7 linked regions of the Homo sapiens genome follow. The protein of the gene in region 6 interacts with the protein of the main gene of each other region in a biochemical or structural test. Each region holds a gene or a part of one and is shown on either strand. Other genes may lie near its edges. The genes, in order: LIMK2, LDB3, APBA2, HTRA1, MAST2, FZD2 and ARHGAP21.

Region 1 (3,500 bases), on a different chromosome or scaffold from region 6:
TCTAGAAGGAAAAGAGGTAAATTAGAGGCAGGTGGAACATGAGCAGGGCCATGGGGTGGGTGGAAGGGATCTAGGCTCAGCTACTTCCTGGTTGTATAACGTCAGGCAAACTCCTTCACCTAGTAGTGCCTCTGTGAGAAATGGGCATAATGTTACCGGTACCTCATATATTTGCTATAAAGATTAGGTAACACTATAACAAGGCTGGACTAGCTGGAGTTAATACTTAAAAACAATAGGAGAAAAACTTCCCTCCCATATCTTAGAGAAAATGCAGTTATCAAAGGTGGAATCGGAAACACCAGGCTCCTAGTGCCACGGAAATGGCTTGGCTGCCCCGGAAGCCTAAGACAGCTCAGGCTTACTCCTCCTCCTCCATGTTTATGCTTAAATGTCATGTCACCTCAGTGAGGCCTGCTCTGACGACCATATTTAAAATTGCAACTGGTACCCTGAACAATCGTCTTTACTTGTCTTGACTCTTTTTCCATAGCATCTGCCACATTCTAATATTCAATATAGTTTACTTATTGTATCTACTGTATGATACAGTAGATACCATGCTAGAATCTATGTTCTATGAGGGTAAGCACCTTTATTTTGTTCGCTGCTGTAACCCAAGTGTTTAGAACTGTACCTAGCACACAGTAGGCATTCAATACTGTATATATATATTTTTTAATAAATTAAAGATATTTAGAATGACAAGAGGTATTAGAAAACAAATACTGTGTAGCTTCACAATTTCTCCTCAAGCTTTTACACTGGTGTTACTGAAGGACTGCGGTCCTTGGCCTATAAAGGAACAAGGTATAGATTCTCCCACCAGAAAATTTCAACTCTAATGTGGACCGCTGGAAATCATTTTTTTTTTTTTTTTTGAGCTGCACCAAAGGCGTACCCTACCTCGCTTTATTAAAGGGCCCGTGCCGCAGAGTCAATATAAAAACACAAAGTCCCATCAGTTTAATAACAATAAAAAAATCCAAAAGTGGAAAACTGAGGGGGCAGGGGAAGAGACCCCTGGGCCAGGGGCACGAGGAGCCCTGCTCATGGAACCAGGCCTGGCCGCAGGGTCCCCCGGTATTGCTGTTGCTACGAGGTCGGGGGGTAGCGATTGTCCTATGGGAGCCACCGTTCGCCTGGGTCGGGGACCCTCACTTCTTCTGGGGTGTGCTCAGCTTCTGCATGGCCCGGATCTTGTCCAGCAGGCCAGAGATGAAGGCCTCTGTGGGTTTGTAACAGTCAACCAGCAGCTCCTTGACCCTGGAAGCCCAGGCATCGTCACTCTCCATGTCCAGGAGCTCATCCACGTCAATCTCTAGTTCTGAGATCTCCTCTTCCTGGCAGTCGTAGAGGCGCGTGAGCTGCTCCAGGATCCACTCCTCTAGGTTGAGGTGCTTCCGTAGCTCCTTGGGGTCATACTTGATGGTGACCTTCCCTTGGCGCCTCACTGGGCCCTCATCATCCGCGCAGCCCGGGCCCTCTCCTGCGGCCCCGGGGGGGGCTCTGAAAGTAGATGCGTGGTCCTTGGCCGCCACTGCCTGGCCTGGGGGCCGGGGCCGGGGCCGCCAACGCCGCGCCCCCCGCGGTGCCGCTGTCCGCCACGGCGGCCTCCGGGGCCACGTGCGCGCGTGGGGCCCCTCCTTGTGCCGCCGCCTCCGTGACGCCCGCCGGCTGGCTCAGGTTAGCTCGCCGGCTCCGCGGCGAGGGCGGCGGCGGGGGCGCCCGGGGGCAGCTGCAGCATGCGGAGCCCCCGGGCCTGGCCTGGTCGCGCCCCGCCCCCTCCCCGCCGATCCGCCCGCCCTTTGTCCCCTGCGGCCGCCGCCGGGGCTGCCGCCGCCGAAGCGCTTTCTCTATCCGGAAACCATTTTTAAATAAAGATTATGTCCCAACTGGTTATCCTGGGAGGGTGGAGTTGGGGGTGAGGAGAATGTTGAGGGATATATTGGTTAAGGGAGATTACAGAAGACGTATTTCCTGTGCTATAAACTTTGGTAATGTTTGAACTTGTTTTTAAAAGAAACATGATTTTTGATGGCAGGAAAAGAACCCCATTTTTGAGACAGAGTTTCACTCTTGTTGCCGAGGCTGGAGTGCAATGGCGTGATATCGGCTCACTGCAACCTCCGCCCCTGGGTTCAAGCAATTCTCCTGCCTCAGCCTCCCAAGTAGCTGGGGTTACAGGCACCTGCCACCATGCCTGGCTAAGTTTTGTATTTTTAGTAGAGATGGGGTTTCACCATGTTGGCCAGGCTGGTCTCGAACTCCAGACCTCAGGTGATCCACCAGCCTCAGCCTCCCAAAGTGCTGGGATTACAGGTGTGAGCCATCGCGCCCAGCCAGATTCTCGTTTTTTAACCACACACTTGAAAAGACCTAGGGTAACTTTGGTAATAATGAAATTATTACCTGAGAAGAATAAAGGTAATTTTGAAAATACTTCCTCAAAGGAGAAATTAGCTAAATGCATAAAACTGCTCACTGTAGTTAAATACCTATTGTAAAGAGAAACTGGAAAAACCTGAACATCTACATTACAATATGTTCAGACAGTCTCTCAATAGAATTTCATGTTGTCGACAAAAATGATAAACAGGAAGACTGGATAGTAAACACAAGGGAAATGCAGGGCAAAATACAGAACTATTTACTATAAAAAAAAGTATATGTGTAGATATGGACAGGGGAATATCGAAAGATGAATACACTTACTGTATTCAAATGGTTTGGGTGAATTTCCTTCTTTTAAACTTTCTTTTAATGGCTGTGTTTCTGTGTCCTATCCAGATTACTTGCTGCTATGTCTTTACCTCTCTCTTCTCCAACCTGTACATATGTGTTGTCAGATGGCTCAGGGGTTGACAGCCACATTCTTGACCTCAAGGCTTCTCTCACCCCTGTGCTTGCAGAGGGCTCAGGGGTGGCCTTAGACAGAGGCAAACGTCCCAGGACCCTGTGAGCTGGGAGAAAAAGGCAGGATACCAACCTGCTCTCAGGCTCCAGTCTGCAGCAGATGGCGGCCAGCGGGAAGAAGGCCGGGGGACAATCTGTGGGAACAAACTTCTCCCAGAAAAGCTTCACGTTGAGGCCAAAGTCCAGTGTTCGGGGAAGGCAGTCAGGATCTGCATACACCTGCCCAATGATCTGTAGGGTAAGAAGACAGCTGTTTACAAAGGACTACAGAGGCCACAGATACTTGGCAAGGGAAAGGGATGCTGGGATGTGGACAGGAAGAATGGCAGAAGAGGAGGTGGTAAAATAGGTTAGAGAGCTCTCCCCAATCCCCAATCATCTCTCCAAATCTTACTAATCCAGACCTGTATCCACTGAGAGCTGGGTTACTGAAGAGGACTAAGAAGGGGCTTCACTGCAGAAGCCAAGTGTTCCAAATCAGCATCTGCTCCTAGCTTCCACTCATCCTACCCTGCCTTGTCTGTGTCTCCTTGTGGCTGTGTGTGTGTGCCAGAGTTAAGGCTCTATGAGGTGCTGGATCTGAT
Region 2 (3,500 bases), on a different chromosome or scaffold from region 6:
AGCTTCACCCACATACCTCATGCCATTCCTCCCAGCTCCCTGGGAGAGTGGGTGTCACACAGGTATGGCAGCTAAGGCTCAGAGAGGTAAGACCAGATGGCAAGCCAGAAGGACCCGAGGCTTTCTCCCTACACCTGCCTCCTACCCCCATCTCTCCCAACCAGGGCTCAGACTGTGGGCAAGCACCCCACACACACGCCCTTCCAGTGCCCCAGTGCAGGGGCACAGCTGGACCATACCGGATGACATTGTTGCAGTGACCGCAGAGTGGAGTCCGGCTGCTGGCTGGGAATCGCTCAGCCCTCTGGACGGTCCCCCTGGCAAGTGGTGGCACCTGAGGACCCGCTGGGGTGTAGGCTGGGCCTCCCCGGGGCAGGGTCTGCTTGCTGATGGAGGTGGTGCTCTTGCCCGGGGCAAACTTCTGGGAGAAGCTATCATCTGTCACCCAGGGTGGACGGCTGGCAGGCTCCGCAGGGCCCCCGCTGTAGGCCACCGAGGGTGCAGGGTTATAGTTGGGGGCAGGTGAGGGGGTATAGGCTGGTGCTGGGGATGGAGTGTAGGTGGGGACAGGTGAGGGGGTGTAGGCAGGGGCAGGGGAGGGGGTGTAGGCAGGGGCAGGGGAGGGGGTGTAGGGAGTGGGACTGTAATTGGCCCCTGGGGACGGGCTGTAGGTAGATGCAGGCACTGCAAAAGCCAAAAAAAACCCAAAGAAAGGTGTGTCAGGAATTCATTCTTCCCAGTTCCCCTCACTCCTAGCCAGAGAAATGCAAAAGGTGACTTTAACATTAGAGCAGTACAATTTCAGTTTTTTTGGGAGACTTGTTCCTGAACTTCTTGATGGCCCAGATTTGAATTCTCAGCAGGGTGTTCACAGAGCTAGGGAGCAAGCACAGCAGAACCCTCGACAGGGCTGGAAAAGGGACATGGCTATAAATATTTGCAGCTGTGCAGGGTGGGGCTCCGCCAGGCCTTGACTGCCCAAGGCCTGCATAAGACGCAGAGTGGGGGTGGGGGTACCTGGGCGGGGAGAGGTGGGAGTGGGTCACCTCGCCTTTGACTGCAAGATGCTTTCAGTTGCACTCTGACCAGTGATTTGACATCTGAAATACCTCCCTTGGCATAAGTTTGCTGAACCTGGACCTAGGTCAGCCCTCAGGACAAAACAGGTGACCTGGTAGCTGGGTTTTCAGGTTCAGGTTTCAGGTTTAGCTACAATTACTTTCTTGAAAAACAGCTTGGCTTGATTTGTATTGGGGGGCAATTCCGTCTTGGTTTGATTAGGGTGGGGGATCTTGAAGGAGTCATTCAGAGGGTGCTGGGCAGAGACTCTAGGGTGACACAGCCTAGAAGTAGCTGCTCACTTGGCCCGTGGCTGCCTTGGGGGACCCCTGTACTCCCACATCGCTTTGGTGGAAGCTGAGAGTGTGTCTGAGTGACTGTCTAAAGATTGCCCAGGCAGTCAGAGCACAGGGAAGAGAATGCACCACCTCACTTCTATCACCCCCTCCTCCAGCTCCCTGAGAGCAGAAAAACGTTTTGGGCTCACAGCACAGAAAAAGCATTGCCACTGCTTACCCACAGCCCTCTCCCGCCTGGGCCCTCAACACCTAGCCAGGGCAGACCCAGCTGCACCCTGCAGGCAAGGTCCAGCTGGCTTCCTCTTCCAGTGAGTGAGGTTCCAGAAGCCTCACCACATTTCAGTCTGCTCCTCAGCAAAGAGGCCTCATTCCCCCAACCCTAGGAAGCATGTCAGCACAGCCTCCCTCCCCATTCCTGAGCTCAGTATGGGCAGGATGGACTGCATTGAGGCAGTCCCTGCACCCACACCCCGCCTCTGCCCCCCACCCCATACTCCAGCCTCAACCTGGAGAGGAAGGTTTTCCTTAGGGCCTAAGACCCTGGCCCCATCTCCAGTCTCTCTTTCCCACCTGGTTCCCCTGGACCGCCTGGGGCAGCCTGTGGCTCCCACTCTGCACCTTCCACTCCCAGGTGACCCACCCTTCAGAGCTGGGTGAGCTGGAAATCCCTGTGCTGGGGGTGAGTAGGGACCAGGTAGATAGGATCCATCCATGTTGTTGAAGGAAGAAGAGATAAAACCCTCCACAGCCCTGCCCTGGAGCCATCCTGCCAGTGAGGCCTTCAAAAGATAATACCGGTTGGGCATGGTGGCTCACGCCTGTAATCCCAGCACTTTGGGAGGCTGAGGTGGGCAGATCATGAGGTCAGGAGATCGAGACCATCCTGGCTAATGTGGTGAAACCCCATCTCTACTAAAAAAATACAAAAAATTAGCTGGGTGTGGTGGCGGGTGCCTGTAGTCCCAGCTACTCAGGAGGCTGAGGCAGGAGAATGGCGTGAACCCAGGAGGCGGAGCTTGCAGTGACCCGAGATCGTACCACTGCACTCCAGCCTGGGCAACAGAGCAAGACTCCATCTCAAAAAAAAAAAAAAAAAAAAGATAATACCTTCTCCATAAGGAATCTTCCTCCCCTTTAGGGGTAACGAGGCACATAGCATCTGTCATCTGAATCGGTCTTCACATTATTCCCTCTTTACACTTGAGGTCACTGAGGCTCAGACAGAGCTAGTAAGTGGGAATACATCTCCAAATCCATTCATTCTATCATCCCAAGCTGCCTCTGTAAAGAATATGAGTCCAATTTCTAGAAAATCTCAGTGCAACATGTCAGGGAGGAGTCATTTTCAACATGAAGGAGACCCCCTGCTGTGGAGTCTTGATAGCATAGCCAAGAGCCCTGGCTGCAGGATCCAGCTCTACTACCTCCTGGTTTTGTGTCCTTGGGCAAGTTCCTTAACCTCTCTGGGCCTCAATTTCTTCATCTAAAACTGGCAATACTGATTCTTAGTATCTCACAAGGTTATTATGAGGATTAAGGGAAGGTAAGAAATATAAAGAGCGTAGCCTAGTACCTGGCATAGTGTGTCACTAAATGTGAGTGAGGATGGCAAGGATGGGGGCAACCTGGGTGTCAGGGTCAGATGTACTGTCAGCCTGTCTCATGGCCTGCTGCTCACCTAGGGAAGCCCAGCCCAGTTAGACTGGTAGCGCCTAGGGTTGGGGGAGAGGAGGGAAGGGAAATGGAACATCCTGAAGTCAGATAACCTGAGACTGAGGTCTATTCAGTGGTGGTGGAATGCCTGACACCCTGCCTGCCCCACAGGGCATGCTGGGGACCTGCTGGGGTGACATAGTGAATGGATTTTGTAAATGTGTACAGCCCAAATTTGAGGTATTGTCACCCTCCCTAACAACTTTGCAGAGAATATCAAAATGCTGGGGGAAGAAGTGATTCCAGGAACACCACCAGGGACAGAGAGCAGGGAGAGGTGATCTAGCACAACTTCAGAGCAGCTTCATCCCTCTGTTATATATAAGGGGGTTCTGTGCAACATTTTCTTTCCTTTCTTTGTGAAGTGCAATTCTCTGCTAAAAAAGATTAAGATTGGCTGGGCGCGGTGGCTCACGCCTGTAATCCCAG
Region 3 (3,500 bases), on a different chromosome or scaffold from region 6:
AAAGCAGGTTGTTATTTCAAGCAAGGCAGCACCAAATCTCCCAGTGCACATCCTTCATAAAAAATCTTGCTTTCAAGATGAATTCTACGGCTCTTTCTGGTCAGGTTTCAAAGAGGTCCTCATCTGGAATGGGGTACTCAAATCTAAGAATGTGGAGACCCTGCCCACGTGCAGCGGGCCTGGTAGAGTCTTCAGAAAGAGTAGTCAGGGCCCCTGGCACCAGGGTACTTGTCAGCCTGGAACTCTGGAACTAGCAGGTGTTCCCCTTGACAGAATTAATTTGTGAACTGATAGGAAAGAAAGAAAGAAAGAGAGAGAGAGAGAGAGAGAGAGAGAGGAGGGAGGGAGGGAGGGAGAGAAGGAGGGAGGGAGGGAGGGAGGGAGGGAGGGAGGGAGGAAGGGAGGAAGGGAGGAAAGGAGGAAAGGACAGAAAGGAGGGAGGGAGGGAAAAACAAAACAAAACAAAAGCTATACAATCATTAACCAGTTTAAATGAACTTTTCCAGTGTCTCAGACAAGAGCATGTCCTTCAAGGACACATTCTCCTTAGGGGGAGAAGTGACATACTTTTTCATTCAATGCCTCTTCTGGGAAGAACAGACATCCTCTTGATCCTCCACAATGGCTGGGGACTTCCCCTACCTCCACCTGCCCTTTTAAACAGCTACTATCACCCATCCATCCATTCATTCCCACTCATTTACCTCCCAGCTCTCCAATCGCAAGATCTCTGTGTTTTTACCCAAATTACCATCTGGTTAGCATGAAGCACAAAACCAGAAAATATCAGGTCTTGCTTACTCCCCACCACGCTCTAAAGATAATCTTCTTTGACAAGAACTTGGCTAGCGATGCCATTTGTCACAATAAGACGCAGCATGTCACACGCTCTGCACAGCCCACGTCAATCCCTGAGGTGCCTTCACCACTGTTGTGGGACAAGCCCAGGCCCTGCTAAAGACCAAAGAAACACTTTGCTTTGGCCTAAAGCCCAGACCCAGGGTCCAGAGCCTCCTGGCCTTAGGGGTGAACTCTCCCAACACCCACTAGTACCATGGGAGCTCCTATGCATCCCACAGCCCCCTGTAAACACGGAATTGCTGTGAATGACAGGAACACCCCCAAAGTGAAGTCAACTGACACTTAACGTTCTTTAGAGAGAATACAAGACATTAAAATACAAGTGCTGAAAATCCAGGAGTCAATTAAAATATAAGTGCTGAAAATCCAATGATTTCCATTCCAAACCCAAGCTCTCAGTACACACACACACACACACACACACACACACACACACACACACACTCAAATTCATGAACTCTTCTCGGAAAAAAATATTTAACAGTTAAGGCTGTAAAAAAATATGACAGAAGTCCACATAATTGGCCAAATAGAAGTTCCTTCACACAAGTCCAATAATCACATCTTCTTTATATACTCACAGTGAGGCTTTTTTTGGAAGGTGGCTTTTCAAATGTGTTTATTAGAATGCACGCTGACTTTGCTATAATTAAAATACAGTTATGCTGACATCCACTGCCCTCATTAGCATGCGTTTCTTCCCCGAGGTTTTGTCAAACCTTCAAAAAATCCTTTTCCAAATAGGTATTCACAGCTGATTGCCCATCAGGCCAAGGCCCCCGGGCTTTCAGAGACCCGTCCATTGTGAAATGCACTCTGGCCCCGACCCCAGCCACCAGGCCACCCAACACTGGCCGCAGCAGTGGGTGAGCACCAGCACCCCCACGTCTTTGCCACTGCCCTGCTGGTCTGAGTACACCCCTGAGGATTGAGGGGCTCTCCCACACATACTGCCCCACCATGAGCAGACCAGGGCAGTGGGCAAGAAATCGAACCTCTCTTCTAGGGTGGGAGGAGGGGTGTCTTCTGCGAGACACGAGTTGCCACTCAGCCCTCAACCGGCTTTAGTCCTGAGTCTGAGCGGTGAGCTTAAGAGTGGCCGGAGCATCCACGCAACATGTCTCCCAACTGGACCAATGAAGAGCTCAGCCACCATTAGAACTGTGAGGCACCCAGCACCCCCCACCGCCTCGCTTCAGCATCTGCAAGGCCTGTACCCTGAGGTCCCTTGCTCTCGGGCCCCTCTGCTCCCTTCCCCAGGACAGCCAGGGTCCTACCTGCTCGTGGGGCCACTTCAGCCTCTCTTCTGGGGTCCTGGTCTTGGGCTTGAAGCCTCTCTGGGGGTCTCCGGGGTGCTTGGCCTCGGGAAGGAGGTTCAGCGACTTGGGCCTCGCCTCGTGCCTGCTGGGGCTGCAGCTGGCCTTGATGGGTGGGCAGGCCTCTACAGAGTCCTCAGGCCCTGGCTCAGGCCCATGCTCGGGGCTGGCCTCACTGGCGCTGGTGATGCTGGTCATGCTCAGACTCATCTTGATCTCTGCCACGATCTGGTCAATGTCCTCCTCCTGGTCCTCCAGGTCCCCATCCCCACGCCTCAGGCGGTAGGGGGAGGCGCCGGTGTTCCCGTTGGCCTCCTCGGGGTAGTAGTCCTGGTAGCCCTCTTTGCTGGCACAGTAGTGACCATCTTCTTCCTGGTCATGGGCCTCAAGGACGGAGGGCTCATCCTCCGGAATGGGCAGTTGGCCGTCTGGGTAGTCCTGGCTGCCTTCAGCCTCGTGGCCGTGGGGGTGCGGGCCCGCCGAGTCCGTCCACTCCTCCACCGCCTCCTGGCACTCATCAGTGTCCACAGGGTGTGCACTGTGGGCCAGGTACTCCTCCCCGTTGCAGTCCATGCCCTCTAGGTAGCTGTCGTCCTCAGGGCAGTAGCGGATGTAGTAGGTGATGCCCTCCTCCTCCTCAGGGAGGCCCTCGTCATAGTCCTCCTCCTCAGAGGTGTTGTTCACGTAGTCAGAGCTGGAGTCCCCATCGGGGCTGTGGTTGTGGCACTCCTGTTCCTCTGGCGCGGGGCTCTCTGGCCGCAGGGCAGCCAGCTCCAGGCCCTCGGGCACATAGCCCTCCAAGGGCAGCTCCATGTCCTCGCTCTCGGGCTCCTGGCTGTGAGGGACAGGACCTGGTCTCACCCTATGGTCCAACATGCCGCTCCCCACGCTCTCAAGCTTCCGGTGGGCCATGGCAGTCGTTCACACAGCCATCATCACCCGGAGGCAGCCACTGTGGGGAGGAACATTGGGAAGGACAGAGTCAAAACCCCACAAAGCCCAGCCATGTGTGGGGCCACTTCACCACAGCACCTCCCACCACGTCCTCCCGCAGCCATGTGAGGGCACATCTGTTCAAACAGTGCGCCATCCCCACCCCCGCTAACTCATCATCAGAACAACACGCATCCACACCAAGGAGAACGAGGGCACACAGAGCTCCGGGAAAAGCAGTCAAGGGAGGCACCGGCAACTCACGAGGACACACGCCTCTCCCCAGGAACCTACCGGCTCATTCCTGACTTCTCACTCAGTTTGGGTAGCCCAGGTGACCAAGACAAATGGTCAGAAGATCAGGTTGTTTGCTCTCACGAAGAAAATGAG
Region 4 (3,500 bases), on a different chromosome or scaffold from region 6:
TGGGGGTGCTGGGGACACCAGGGGCCGGGGGCCCAATCCCCCAGGTTGCAGGAAGGGCCACAGAAGGGTACACTGAGGTTGCGGCTCAAATCCTGGTCTGGACCCCTCCCCTCTGGGGGACCTTGGGAAAGTCCCATTGTTTCAATTAATGGTCAGGTACCTGGGCATGACCCTTAATTCCTCATGGCCTCATCCTGACAGCTGGCCCTTCCCCAAGCTTGCTCTACCCCCCATATATATCTGGAATGTGACCCCTCTGTCCCACCTCCACTGCCACCACCCTTGTCTGAGACCCCAGCATGTCTCATCCAGATGGCTGGGAGAGCCCCTTAACCGGTCCCCAACTTCCAGCAACCCCTCCAGCAGACTCCCCGCAGCCATCAGAGTGTCCTTTCAGTGACATCAATCAGATCATAAACTTCCCTGTTCTTAAATGTCGTTAGGATGCAACCCAGGTCCCTCACCACGGCCTGCTGTGAGCCTGCTCGCCCGGCCTTGGCCTCTTTCCACCCCGGGGAACTCCATGCTGTCACTGTGCTCCGGCCCTCAGGCCACTTCAGGGGCCTTGTGCTCACTCAACTATGCTGAGTCCTCTGTCTTTCCTTCTGGAGTGTTCCCCCCACATCCCTGCCCGCTGGTTCCTCCTCACTCAGACCTCAGCTTGGAAGGCATTTCCTGGCCACACCATCTCCACCAGCTGCCCCTCCAGTCGCTCCCTTGACGGCCACCCTGATCCGTTTTCTTGGGAGCACTAATAGTATCTTATGTGTTTGATTATTTACTGTCAGCCTTCCCATCCCCCAACAGAACATAAAAGTCACACCGGCAAAGGCCCCTGTTGAGCCCCAGGCCCCAGTTGAGCTGTCCACTGCCAAGCTCCCTGCTTGACTTAGAGCAGATGGGGCAATAAACGTTTGCAGAATGATCTCCCTGAACCGTTTTCTCATCAGCAAAATGGGACTAGTAATTCCTAACTGATAGGGCAAAAGAATTAAGTGACATACATAAAGAAAGTGAAATAATGTACACAAGTCACCTAGGATCATGCCTGGTACATATTAGACTGACTCAAGTGACATTGCCATGATCAGAGGACAAAAATGGTGAAATGTCTGTGACCTTCTGCGAGGGATTTAGTAATGTGCATTCCCGTTCACTTCTGGATCAGAGACGGCTTGGCTAGTCCTAGGGGCTGCCGCTTTTCCCTTCCCCAAGTCCCAAAGGGCAGCTGAGCTTCAGGCCCCATCTCCGGAGTCCCCAGGGCTGTGTGGGCCTTGCCTACCTTTGGCCTGTCGGTCATGGGACTCCGTGAGGAACTTTTTAATCTTATCAGATGGGATTGCAAAGGAGATTCCAGCTGTCACTTTCAAAGTGTTAATTCCAATCACTTCACCGTCCTGAAAAGCAAGAAGGACACGGCTTACTGAATCGTGAAGCTTTACCGGCAGGTACACACCCAGAGAGAATATGCCTGAAAGAAGTCCCTGAGCTATTTCAGAGATCGAAGTGGGGAGATGCAAGGAGGGGATCCCCGTGGCAGCAGGGAGAGAGGCATCAGGACACCCAGGCAGCGCGAGCCACGCGCAGCTGTGGAAGAATCGCACATACTCCAGGTCGGCACTGGGTGCTCACCTCACGGTAAGCACAGATAGTTTCAAAATGCACGATATGATTTGCTCCTGTTTCACAAGGAATACGTTTCCAAAGGCTCAAACTCCTTTAGGTGGCTGCCCACACCTTCCTGCTTCTCCCATGTCTAATGATCTTAAGATGACTCTGCTGACTTCAGGGGGAAACAACCCTAGAGCTTAGGGCTGTCATGCTTCATTACCAGCAAAGCCATCTCCACTCCATCCCCAAGTGCTGCGCGGGGAGGCAGAGGACAGAGCTGGGAGCACAGCTGCCCCTCTGCTGGGAAGAGAAAGCTGCCAAGTGCACACTTCCCAGGAGTGCTGAGATGTCAGTACCTGATGCCAAGGCACCATCTAGGAGGTGCCATCACACTGGGCCTTGCTAAAGACAGCCCCTATAAATGGCCCCAGAGCTGCCCTCTATAAATGGCCCCAGAGCTGCCCTCTATAAATGGCCCCAGAGCTGCCCTCTAGCTCTGCTGGTCTGTGTTCTAAGGCTTCACTTTTTCTGCTCAAGTATTTAAGGGAAGACTTAAGTGATATCTTTGTGGGTGGGTAACTCCTCCTCATTCCAGCCAGGCCTTAAGGGAGGATTCCTGGCCAAGAGAAAATGTGTATGAGCCCAGCCAGCTCCTTCAGCAGCCCAGGAGATTTAATTTGGAGGAGGTGCTTTCGGTGACTGGCCAGCATTTTTAGTGACCTTCACCTTACTCCTGCATTGGCCCTGAATTTCACGGTGTTTACCTGTAACTCTGAGACACAAGTGTGTTCTCTGGCATAACATTTCCAACCCTCACCTCCGGCCTGCCTTACTCTTTCCAGAAAAGATCCGTAGGGTCATTTGCAAGCACGCAGTACATTTACAGAGCCATTTTAAAGGAATTTATAATACACTTTGGCAACCTTATGTTTGAAAAGACCCCCTGCCTCAAAAACAAACAAACAACAAACAAACAAACAAAAAACAGCGTATACATAGATAAAAACAAATGACCTAACATAGGTTTAAAAGACCTTACCAGGTTTACTAACGGGCCTCCCGAGTTTCCATACTGCAATTAAACAGAAATGAAAAGGTTACAAATCGTGTCATAACATGGTTCAATCTATGTCCCTGCCTGGTCGTTTCCTGAGCACGGTGCCTAGAGTGGGGGGCACGATTCTTCTCTGAGATTCATTCCCATTAACCTAATATTTTGCCGGAAAAAAATGACCTTAACAATTTTCAGAAAGTTTTAGAGGTGCCGTAAACAGGGAGATTTTCTCTCTGAAGCCCAGAAGCCAACTGCAATCACCCTAAAGCACCCAATACAACTTCTTCCTCCTGGGAGGAGGCTGGCTGTCCACCTGCTCCGGTGTCACCGTCCCCGCCATGTGACCCCTGCCATGCTGCTGGCACTAGAATCCACATGGCTTGGTCTAGTTCCATCCCTTCACGCAGACTACAACAAAGTCAGGGGCTAAGACCTATGCTGACTCCTCTCCCCCTGGCAAAACTCTGCCCCAATCCCCACCCGCAGAGGGACAGAGGCTCACGTTGATGATGGCGTCGGTCTGGATGTAGTCCATGTCTGAGTTGCGGAGCCCCAGCTCTTTGCCGCCTCGCTGGGTGGTGCTCACGATCCCGGTGGTGACTGTGTTTTGAAGGGAAAACGGGCTTCCGATGGCGACCACGAACTCTCCCGGCCGCAGCTCTGAGGAGCGGCCAAGCAGCAGGACAGGCAGCTTGCCCTGAAACCACAATGGCTGGCGTTGCTGAGTTGGTTTAATTTAACCAAATAGGTAAAGGCACAGATATCATGGAAAACCAAGCAGGGACAGTGACGGGCTATTTGGAAACACCAGGCCCGGTGGGGAACTGAGCTCACA
Region 5 (3,006 bases), on a different chromosome or scaffold from region 6:
GGAGTCCAAGGGAGACCTACGTTCTAACCCCCGTTCTACCCAAGCTACTGTATTACCATGGGCATCAAAGTCTTAGTGCCCTTATCTATGAAGGAATTTTAGTTGCTACATGGTATTTTCTGGTTCCCCATCACCTTCACGAAGTCAAATCTCCTGGAAGACCATTAGACATGGCCCTTGCCTCACTTGCCAGACCCGTTTCTACTTTGAATTATCTTTGGTTCCTTGACTATGCCAGGTATACTGCATGTGCTAAACGTTGCCTGGACAGCCTTTCTTATGCCAACCTCCACTCTTCCACACCCAGCAAACTACTACCTATCATCTATTCTTCATGTTTGAGCTCAAATGTCAAAGCCTTTGGGAAGTCAAGCTGGGTTAGGTGGCCCTCCCCTGGTGGTGGAAACTGTTTTATTCACCACTATATTCCCAGCAGCAACACAGGACCTAGTTACATGTGGGTTGACCGAAGGAAAACAAGCAAGCAAAAGACATAAAGATGGTTTCCAGGAGCATATATTACACAGGTCTGAGTGCAAGAAATGGCAAACAACTGCTATGTTTGCTTTAAAAGCTCATCTGGAACCAATGCCAAATCCCGATGCTTTTGATGGCCCCCTGGTTCTTGGCCCCTCCTGAGGCTGGGCTCAGACTTCTGGGTGAGGGGGCAGCCTCGGCATGGAACGTCCTGCCTTCTGTCACCTGAGGCATCAGGCACTTGGGTGATGCTCAGGGCTGGATCCTCTTTCACTGCTTGTGCACACTCAGACTCCCATAGCCAGCCCTGGCTGGGATCCTCATAAGATGGATGGGCCAGTCTGGGGGCACTAGGTGGCTGTGTCTTCCCCTGCTCCCTGGGAGACAGGTTCTTAGGCTGGGCTGGAGTTGTGTTTTCCAAATCCTGGAGGTTGGCTAGCCCACCTGCCATGGTTGCCTTTCTGCTTGGGGATGCCCTGTCTGGGCCCTCAATAAGGGATTTCCAGGACCACATGCTCAGCTTCCCAGAGGTGGAGCTGGGAGGAGAGCAACTGCTGGTGGGGGTGAGTCCCGAAGTGCTGGGAGAAAGTGCTGTTAGTGCCTGGGTGTGGAGGTGCTGGGCCTTCCAGCAACCTTCAGGAGGGATGGGGTCTGTGGCTCCAGACTGACCTAGGTTGGGGCCTGCTGAGGAGGAGCTGGCAGCCTCCTCAATGGCTTGTGGGCTCCCGAGCCTCCTGTGGGGACCACTGGGACTTTCCATTCTGGGAGGCCCCAGTGTGATCCCTGTCAATAGGCTTGGGACCATTGGGCCCAGGCTCCTAGGGTCTCTGGACGGGAAAGGATCCTCTTCCCCACTCTCTCCTGCTCCTTTAGGGGCCACACTCTGGCTCACTTCTGGGTGAGGTGCCAAGCTCAGCTCCTGTGCACCCTGGCTGTTCTCAGGCCCTTCCTCGGTGTCGTCCTCTGAGGAGTCCACCTCACGAATGGCTTCTTGCTTCTGCAGCGACTCCCGTCGTTCGGCTCGGTCCTGCCGGAGGGTGCCTAGGGCCCGTGAGGGAGCAGGCTGCAGCACCCCCTTCCCTGGCAGGGCCCCCTTGCCAGACAGCACACTCCTGGCTCCAACTACCTCCAGAGGGCTCACTTCCCTGGGCGGCAGTTCCTTCTTTAGTTCAGAGTGGGGCAGGTCAAGGCTGTGCTTGCGAGAAGTGGCTAGCTTCTTCTCAGAGGCGGCAAGTGCTGCTGCCAGTTTCTCAGCCGACTGCACCCTCTTGAGTAGTGGTGAACGGGGTGGCTCCGCACTCTTGGGCCGTGAGAGTTGCCTGCCCAGGGGAGGTGACAAGTGAAGCTTTGTGGGAAAGGCCTGGGCTACATGGCCAGACAGGGGCGATGGGGACCGCTGAGGTGAAGCTGTTGGGGGTGGGGGAGAAGGGGTGTGGGCCAGTGGTGACAGTGGGATGCTGCCTGCTGACTTGCGCCGTGGAGAGCGGTACTGGCGTTGGAGCTTGGGTGCCAGACCGTGGAGGGAGCTGGGCCGTGTGTGCCCAGAGCCGGCTGGGGAACTGGGCACGCTGGAGCTGGGGGAGCTGCTCTGTGATGAATTCCCTCCCACTTTGTACAGAGACAGACAGACAGACAGACAAAAGCAGAGCAGTGTTAGCTGTTAGAAGTGACTCAAGGGCAAGACAGGGCTTAGCCCTGTTATGTCCCAGAAACCAAGCTACCCCCTTCCCCATCAATTAATTCCTCCCCAAGACTACAGGATCTTTCAGGGGGTGGGCTAAATGAGAGACTCAGAGTGGGATCTGTCAGAAGCACACAGGGCCTAGGAACTTTCCTATTTCCCAGGGGTTGTCACTGATCTGCAGGGAGCCCTTCGTACCTGAATGCACAGCATCGGGGGTCACCCGGTAGCCTTGAGTGGGAGATCGGGGGGAAAGGCTGTGGCTGTGTGTGGGAGAGCCTGGCCCACTCTCCCCTGATGACAAGGAGCGGTTAAGGGAAGAAAGGCTGCGGCTGGTGTGGAGCAGGGATGCTTGCTTGGTGATCTTGCGGAACAGGGAGCTCCTTTTTCTGCTGCGGGGATAAGGGTCAAAGGCTGAGTCGGTGCAGTGAGCACAGCACACACTGGACCCCCAGGGCCAAGGCACCCACCACGTACCAGCACTCATGTGGCTCAGAGAAAACCCTCTTCACTGCGCCTGGCTCACCTTTCTTGCCCATCCTTGCCGCGGCTCCTCTTGCTCCTTCGGGCCATCTTGGCCTTGTAGCTGCCCTTCCGAGCTGGCCCCACTTTAATGGATGTGTTCTCCAGGGGAGTTGTTGAAATGGCCACCTTGTTTCCACTCTGGGGAGCAGAGCATGAGGCCTAGGCTAAGCTGGAGCCATATTCTTGCCCCTCCCCTCCCCCAATCCTTCCCTTCTGGCATGGCTATACCACAGCTCCAGCTTTTTGTCCCTGCACCAACACATCTGAACCACAGGCCTATATTATTGTTTTTACAGATGAGGAAATGGCTCCCATTGGAGCCC
Region 6 (4,176 bases):
CTCAAAGGCGAATGCTTCCCCTAGACATGAAGGGAGGCAGGATCAGTACTCCTGGTGGGGTGTATGTTGGTGGGGGCTGTTTCAAAACACACTTCAAAAAGCATTTTTGGGCCACTGGAAGCACTTGGTGCAGCGAATTGAAAAGAAGAGAAGCCAGACAGGAGAAAGATCTTCCAGCCTGCAGGGGAATGGGCCAGGGGGTGGAAGCCATTCCTCACCGGATCTCTGCCCTCTCCCCACCAGCACACCCCGACCCCGATTTTTTTTTCCACGTCTTCATCTCTGTTGGGACTTTTCCAAGAGTGAGTGAAGAAGACAGGACAAATGAGTAGGGAAAGAAAAGGGGGAAGGAAACAAAACGAATCCAAGTCCTGTTCAAAAATATCCAACGGCTTCCACAGGCCCAGCGTCAGAGAGGAGGCTCACAAATTTGGCTTTTATATTAGTTGAATGGAACAAACTCCTAACGACTCAAAGCCAACAAAAACAGCGCTCAGGCTGGGTGCCTCTCCCATCAGGCCCAGCCCTGCCATATCACCAAAAAACTCCAAAAGTGGGGCGGGTTTTGAAGGGCACTTAAGAAAGAGAACCCTCCCCCCAACTACACTCCCCAACACACACACACCTCATTCTTCAGTCCTGGCGCCCACACCCCTGTTTTTTTTTCTCCTTTTTTCTTTTAAATAGAAAATATATATAATTAAATTTACAAAGACTATTTACAGTTTTAATTACAAACCTTGTGGGGGTGTTGGGCAGAGAGTTCTCTTTTAAAAAGCAACCTAAAAGTGAAATGGTTTCGATCGTTTTTTATTTAAAAAAATAAAATACGGAGTCTGTAGGGGCCCCACCCCGGGCGGAGGAAAGCGCCGCGCGGTTCCGGCCTGGGGGCGTCCCTCACACGGTGGTCTCACCGTGTCGGCTGTTGGTGAGGCGAGTGTAGAACTTCCTCCACGAGTGCAGCGTCTTGCCCGACCAGATCCAGAAGCCCGACGTGATGCCCACGATGAGCGTCATGAGGTATTTGATCATGTAGACCGTGAAGTCGGGCGACATGCGCGGCGTGTAGTGCGCCGGGCACGGGATGGCCAGGCTCTTGCAGTGCTGGCTCACCCACGAGCGCTCCCAGTGCTCGCGGAAGGCCTGCTCGTAGAAGTAGCAAGCGATGACGATGGTGGCGGGCACTGTGTAGAGCACGGAGAAGACGCCGATGCGCACCATGAGCCGCTCCAGCTTTTCGGTCTTGGTGCCGTCGTGCTTCATGATGGTGCGGATGCGGAAGAGCGACACGAAGCCGGCCAGGAGGAAGGACGTGCCGATGAACAGGTACACGAAGAGCGGCGCTAGCACGAAGCCCCGCAGCGGGTCCAGGCTGTTGAGGCCTACGAAGCACACGCCGCTCAGCAGGTCGCCGTCGATCTGGCCCATGGCCAGGATGGTGATGGTCTTGACGGCCGGCACGGCCCAGGCGGCCAGGTGGAAGTACTGAGAGTTGGCCTCGATGGCCTCGTGGCCCCACTTCATGCCGGCTGCCAGGAACCAGGTGAGCGACAGGATGACCCACCAGATGGAGCTGGCCATGCTGAAGAAGTAGAGCATCATGAAGAGGATGGTGCAGCCCTCCTTCTTGGTGCCCTGCACCACCGTGCGGTAACCGTCCTCGGAGAAGCGCTCGTTGCACACCACGCGCTCCTGGAGCACGAAGCCCGCGATGTAGGCCACCGACACCATGGTGTAGCAGCCCGACAGAAAAATGATAGGCCGCTCTGGGTAGCGGAAGCGCTGCATGTCTACCAAGTACGTGGTGACAGTGAAGAAGGTGGAAGCGCAGCACAGCACCGACCAGGTGAGGATCCAGAGGCGCGCGAAACGCGTCTCCTCCTGTGAGAAGAACATGGAACCATCGGGCCGCGCAGGTTCGCAGGGCGCAGCACAATCACGCTCGCCCAGAAACTTGTAGCTGAGATAGGATGGCACCTTGAGGACGCGCGGGCAGTGGAAGGGGTGCTCCAGCGTGGCGTAGCGCGGGGGAGCGCCGCCGCCGCCCGGGCCACCCGGGGTGCCCCCGGCACCCGGCTGCAGTCCCGGCGGCGGCGCGGTGGTGAGTAGCGCGGGAGCTCCGTCCTCGGAGTGGTTCTGGCCGACGCAGATCTGCTCGGCGCCGTGGCGCGGGAAGTGCTCGCAGCGCAGGCGCTCGGGCCACTGAAAACCGAACTTGTTCATGAGGGCTTCGCAGCCCTGGCGCGCGCGCTCACAGATAGAGCGGCACGGCGGGATGGCCTGTTCCAGCACGGTGCACACGGGTGCGTACATGGAGCACAGGAAGAAGCGCAGTTCGGGCGAGCACTGCACCTTCACCAGCGGATAGAACTGGTGCACCTCTAGGCCTGCGTCCTCCTGGTTCGTGTGGCCCAGAAGGTTGGGCATGATGGTCTGGTTGTAGGCGATGTCCGTGCACAGCGGGATGGAGATGGGCTGGCAGAAGCCGTGGTCCGGGATGGAGATGCCCTTCTCCCCGTGGAACTGGGCCGGCCCGGCGGCGGGCAGCAGCAGCAGCGGCAGCAGCAGGCGGGGCAGGGCGCTGCGGGGCCGCATGCTGGCCGCCGCCCCCCACCCGGCTCCTTGGCGCCCCCCCCGCCCCCGCCCCCAACCCGGAGACTGCGCTTCTTCCCCGCCGCCTCCTCGCTGCGGCTGCCGCCTCCCGCGCCTCTTTGCAAACTTTACTCGCGGCCGCAGAGTTGGGGAGGCCGGGCGGGGGAGGGGGCGGTGCGCCTGCCCGCTTGCTTGCCGCGGTCGGACTGAGCAGCCGGAGACACCGCGCGCTGCTGCCCTCTCTCCTCTTCCTCCTCCTCTCGCCTCTCAGCTCCCCCTCTCCCCTCCCTTCTGCACCCAGCGACTTCTTTGTGCCTCCTCCAGCCCTCACCTCGGCCTCTCCGATCCCAATTAGTCGGTTTCAAGGGGGCCCCCGCTGGCGGCCCCGCCCTCTCCTCAGCCCCCCAAAAAAGGGATCCTTGAAACCGCCCCGTCGAGCTCTAAGCACCAACCCAAAATGTGCTCTCGGCCAATCAGATTTAAACCCGAGGACCAGGCCCGAGGGCTGGATTGGTCGACCACAACATAATGAGATCAGAAACCAGATGCCAACAAAACTTTCCCCCCCTTTTGCTTTTTAAAGAGACAAGCTATTATTATATTAAGGGCTGTTTGCCCAGCCCGGGATTTCTCCGGAGTTGCCGCGGCGAGATCGGGGGACACTACTCGACCCTGGCTCACTCCTCTTCCCGGGCCGAGGTGCTCTGCCGGGTGGGGACTCTTTAAACCCTTGCCCCCGCCCCCGATCCTCGAACCCCACCTATTCCTAGTCCAATTTTTCAAATCGAGTGAAAAATCTCAAATTTAAAAATTAAAACAGACTTTAAAAAAACTAACAATTTACAAAGACCTTTTCTGTCCGCTCTTTCTGGAGCCCAGGCGAAAGTTTCACTTCACTTTACACGTAGATCCCTCGCCCTCCCCCTCCACACACCCTTAAAAAACCCTCTGAAAAATGGGATCCTGTCTCTTTAAGAGACTCTTAAAGGGACCAGGACTCCGAGGCGTAATTGCCCCGTAGCCAACACAAAGGAGCCCATTATGGTTCTTTGTGTTCGGTGGCACCTCAAAGTGAGAAAACTCAGGAACTCGGAGGCCCGGAGCTGGAGGGTTGGGGCGGGGGGCTTGGAGGGAGCGAGGGAAAGGAGAATGGCCCGGAGCTGCGGCTTCTCCCTCCCGCTTCTTCTGCGGCAAATCTTAATTGTGCAAAGTAAAGTTTAGTTGCCCTAAGGAGGAGGTCTTAATCGAAAGTTAATGGTGGGGGGCGGGGGGTGACGGGCAATTTTGAGTGAAGGGACGACTCTCTTAGGCCTGACGAACGTTTGAGGGAATTTTCCTTCTGCCTCCCCACCTCTACCTCCGCCCCCTAAAAGCTTCCAGATCCCGTCTCCAGGGCGAGAGGGGAGTTTTACCCAAATCTTAAGTGGTTCCACACCAGAGAGGGGTGGCGTGTGTGACGCGGGAGGAAACTGGGGGGTTGTGGTGAATTATCCCCTCCACATCTCTCACCTGGTAAGGGGTGGGGTGTGGCCAGCAGGGTTCCTGCTACTTTTAGAATTTTTCTTTTCCCTTCTAGGATTTTAA
Region 7 (3,500 bases), on a different chromosome or scaffold from region 6:
CCTCCGCCTCCCAAGTAGCTGGGCTCACAGGCACCCCACCACGCCCAGCTAATATTTTTGTATTTTTTTTTGTAGAGATGGAGTTTCACTGTGTTGGCCAGGCTGGTCTTGAACTCCCAACCTCAAGTGATCTGACTGCCTCAGCCTCCCAAAGTGCTGGGATTACGGGCGCAAGCCACTGCACCCGGACTATTTTATTATTTTTTAAATTACCTCACATCGTTACTCAAATAGTGGAAGCAAAAATCTCTAAGCTTAAGTACCAATGGCATCACATTTTTGGGAAAAGCCAATATATGAAAAAGACATATAAAGATGATAAGTACATGATTTCTCTTTATAAAAGATGTAAGATGATAAAGTATATGATTTCTCTTTATAAACAGACTATTTGCTAAGACTCAGCCTGAATTAGTATTAAAGAAGGGCTGGGTGCTCATTGCATCGTCCTGTCATATCACCACTGGCACTGAGCCCAGAGCTCCCAAAGGGAGAAACTGGGTATAGGGAATGGTCACCTCTTCCCTTTGGGTAAATTTCAGGGAGCTAAGTTCCCCTGTATGGACAATGTAATCCAGCTATATCTTACCAAATCTAACACTTCTAAATCATCTTGATATGGCAGTGCCAATAAGGCTGTGACCATCAAATTCAATTTAACTTAGGGCTAACCCTCAACTGAGCACACACGCAGCCAATGTTGGGGTAAGATGGAGGAGGAGTCTTAAGAGATATGACAAAACTATGGAGAAAGAAAGTTAAGATGAAACCCTGAGTGTAGGTAACAGTCGTAGCATTTTTGTATTACTAGTAATGAGTGGTATAAATTAGAGAAGTGTAGGAAGTCAGGATTTTAGAACACATTGTAATATCTGCTATTCACCGTGAGATTACTCATGAACAGCTCACATTGTTGAGGTTTGTGTTTACTTATAAAAGAAGTTGAAATTTATTTTCAGGACTTACTATGCAGCTTTATAAAGTGGGGGGTGGGAACAGTAAACAAAATACTGTTAATGAGTAATATTCCAAATTTAAAAACAAAATGTATTCATTTTGTTTTGTATGCCTGTATGCCTCCTGCAACCTTAGTATATAGCAGGGGTCCTCAACTCCTGCGCTGCAGACTGGTACTGGTCCATGGCCGGTTAGGAGCTGGGCCGCACAGCAGAAGGTGAGCAGCGGGGGAAGGAGGGCGAAAGTCAAATAAGATAGGAACTAATTAGAGAGTACTTTTATTCTTAGTAAATAAAATTATTTATTTACATCAATCTATATGTATATAGAATTATACAGATCTTTATTTTCTATTTTAGCCAAAATCTTCTCTTTAATAACATAATTGTTTTATTTCTATACTTCATAACTAGGAAGAAATATTAACAGATATATCCAGCACATTTTTTTACTACTCCAATGTAATCTGATTATATTGTTGTTATTATGTAGGAAGAAAATATGATGCCACTGTTCTGATAAGATCGCATGGGCCTGTGAAACAGCCACAGGTTGTAAGATTTTTTTACATTTTAAAACTTCATAAAACAATCATTCGTCATCAGTTGCCTTCTATAAAATATCTATTCTAGATGATGTATAAGATTCCATCTACAACAGGAGTCTACTATTTGCTGAGCTTGGCCTTAGGGGTATAGATATGAATATGGGTACAATTTAGGTTGAGATTCCCCACAATGTTGACAACTTGAATATATCCGATTTATAAAAAAAAACATAAGCTGTGTGGAACTTTTTAAAAAAGCTTTTAGTGTCACCTATCCAATTAAGTGTTTTCTCAAGAAACATTTTTAAAGCTATCAATAGCTTTACAATTGATAGCTTTAAAAATGTTTCCGTAGAAAAGAAACAACAGTCCTCAACAGCTTTAAAAATGTTCCCGTAGAAAAGAAAAACTCAACTAGTACTCAAAGAGAAGCATATTATATTGTAAAATGATGGAGAACTCTTTTCATAAACCCATGGGACACCAGGGGGACTACAAGTATGGCCTTGGTTGGTGGCAAAAAGAGAAGGAAAAAAGCCCCTGCATCGCATGCCTCCAGGGGGCGCTCTTCACAGGCATTCCATATAAATGGCGTGCTCCCTGGAGCTGTGCTCTGGGACGAGGCTGAATGAGGCAAACCTAGAGACCCTGTCTCTTATCACTTACTATGCGATTTTAGAGATGTTATTTAGCCTCTCTATACCTTAAATTTCTCACTTATAAAATGAAGATAATATTAAGGACATAAGTCATCACCTGTTAGCAGATGATGTTTTAGAGCTGCACAGTCATGATGAGAACTGTATTGTTGTGCTATACATTTAACCAGCATTTCAAAATTGTCTTTCAGCCATTATCTCAACAAATACTTACTGAGTGAATTCTTTATGTGCCACGCAGTGTTCTAGGCATTAGGGACACAAAAGTGAACCAAAGATTTTAAATCTCTGCTCTCATGTAGTTTATGTTTTAGTTCTACTGAGAAACATGTAACAAAAAAACAAAACATGTCAAGTGGAAACAGTAATACGAAGATAAATAAAAAAGCTTAAGGGAAGAGAATGTCCGTTTCTGTGTCTGTGCGTGGGATACCTGTTTTAGATAGGTGAGTCACAAAGCCTGCTTGGATAAGATCTTTGAGCAGAGACCCAAATGTCATGAGGAAGACAGAGGCTTGTTAACTATCTGTGGAATGTATACCAGGGTTAGAAACCAGCTGTACCTGTCCCTGTAGCAACACACACCTGACAGCAAGGAGGCTGGTGAGGCTGCAGATGGGATGCACATGGAAGATTGTGATAGGAGATCACGAAGTAGGATCTCTCTGACACCATCAGAGAGGGAGTTGTGAGGCAGACCATGGAGGGCCTTTCAGATCACGGGAGGATTTTGCATGCTATTTTGGGTGAGATGAATGGGAAGGAAACAGAGGGTTCTGCACAGAGGAGTGGTGTGATCTAATTGACATTTTTAAAAACATCACACTGGCTGCTGTATGGAGAACAGATCTGGGGTGGGAGGGAGCAGACAGAAGACTCAACAGGACAGGTGCCGGCAACTGTGGCACACGCTTATAATTTAAGTAACTTCTCTAAATCTGTTCCAGGATTTATAGTATGGCAAACTAACTTGACAATGAAGAGGTCTTTTCTCTCAGTACACGTTAAATTTACAAAGAAATATGTTTTAGAAAGTAAAAGCACTGTTTAAATGAAAGGTTGGTAACTAATTATCAAAACTGTTCCACTTGGTTTTTCATTCACCTGAATCAACAATTAGGTATAATTTGCTTCGCTGATTTCCTTAATCTCAGGAATTTGTTTCATCAAAATAAAAATTTGAAATGGGTACTAGGTACATGAAGTTTTTGTTTTTTTTTTAAAAAAAGGAAAATTGGTACTAGAAATAACTTTTAAAGAGGTTTGTGAAAGCTCTGGTTGAAGCACAGCTTATGAGATTCACTAGAAACATTTTAAAATCACAGTGTAAGACTTCT

Evidence for each region.
Region 1: the proteins of FZD2 (region 6) and LIMK2 interact in a test that uses a peptide from one of them, tested with the Homo sapiens proteins (one large-scale study listed by IntAct).
Region 2: the proteins of FZD2 (region 6) and LDB3 interact in a test that uses a peptide from one of them, tested with the Homo sapiens proteins (one large-scale study listed by IntAct).
Region 3: the proteins of FZD2 (region 6) and APBA2 interact in a test that uses a peptide from one of them, tested with the Homo sapiens proteins (one large-scale study listed by IntAct).
Region 4: the proteins of FZD2 (region 6) and HTRA1 interact in a test that uses a peptide from one of them, tested with the Homo sapiens proteins (one large-scale study listed by IntAct).
Region 5: the proteins of FZD2 (region 6) and MAST2 interact in a test that uses a peptide from one of them, tested with the Homo sapiens proteins (one large-scale study listed by IntAct).
Region 7: the proteins of FZD2 (region 6) and ARHGAP21 interact in a test that uses a peptide from one of them, tested with the Homo sapiens proteins (one large-scale study listed by IntAct).

The regions. Positions count from the first base shown.
Region 1 is NC_000022.11:31,274,798-31,278,297, reverse strand, and holds part of LIMK2 (LIM domain kinase 2), read right to left. Parts: intron 3,148-3,500; coding exon 2,990-3,147; intron 1,862-2,989; exon of another isoform or gene 1,510-1,861; coding exon of another isoform or gene 1,158-1,509; exon of another isoform or gene 660-1,157; intron 2-659; coding exon 1-1. UniProt on the Homo sapiens protein: Serine/threonine-protein kinase that plays an essential role in the regulation of actin filament dynamics. Acts downstream of several Rho family GTPase signal transduction pathways.
Region 2 is NC_000010.11:86,713,511-86,717,010, reverse strand, and holds part of LDB3 (LIM domain-binding protein 3), read right to left. Parts: intron 685-3,500; coding exon 240-684; intron 1-239. UniProt on the Homo sapiens protein: May function as an adapter in striated muscle to couple protein kinase C-mediated signaling via its LIM domains to the cytoskeleton.
Region 3 is NC_000015.10:29,053,474-29,056,973, reverse strand, and holds part of APBA2 (amyloid-beta A4 precursor protein-binding family A member 2), read right to left. Parts: intron 3,130-3,500; 5' UTR 3,090-3,129; coding exon 2,139-3,089; intron 1-2,138. UniProt on the Homo sapiens protein: Putative function in synaptic vesicle exocytosis by binding to STXBP1, an essential component of the synaptic vesicle exocytotic machinery. May modulate processing of the amyloid-beta precursor protein (APP) and hence formation of APP-beta.
Region 4 is NC_000010.11:122,506,553-122,510,052, reverse strand, and holds part of HTRA1 (serine protease HTRA1 precursor), read right to left. Parts: intron 3,363-3,500; coding exon 3,168-3,362; intron 2,684-3,167; coding exon 2,651-2,683; intron 1,398-2,650; coding exon 1,283-1,397; intron 1-1,282. UniProt on the Homo sapiens protein: Serine protease with a variety of targets, including extracellular matrix proteins such as fibronectin. HTRA1-generated fibronectin fragments further induce synovial cells to up-regulate MMP1 and MMP3 production.
Region 5 is NC_000001.11:46,033,617-46,036,622, reverse strand, and holds the end of MAST2 (microtubule-associated serine/threonine-protein kinase 2), read right to left. Parts: intron 2,822-3,006; coding exon 2,685-2,821; intron 2,551-2,684; coding exon 2,357-2,550; intron 2,086-2,356; coding exon 557-2,085; 3' UTR 501-556; downstream 1-500. UniProt on the Homo sapiens protein: Appears to link the dystrophin/utrophin network with microtubule filaments via the syntrophins. Phosphorylation of DMD or UTRN may modulate their affinities for associated proteins. Functions in a multi-protein complex in spermatid maturation.
Region 6 is NC_000017.11:44,556,108-44,560,283, reverse strand, and holds the start of FZD2 (frizzled-2 precursor), read right to left. Parts: upstream 2,801-4,176; 5' UTR 2,596-2,800; coding exon 898-2,595; 3' UTR 1-897. UniProt on the Homo sapiens protein: Receptor for Wnt proteins.
Region 7 is NC_000010.11:24,615,888-24,619,387, forward strand, and holds part of ARHGAP21 (rho GTPase-activating protein 21), read right to left. Parts: intron 1-3,500. UniProt on the Homo sapiens protein: Functions as a GTPase-activating protein (GAP) for RHOA and CDC42. Downstream partner of ARF1 which may control Golgi apparatus structure and function. Also required for CTNNA1 recruitment to adherens junctions.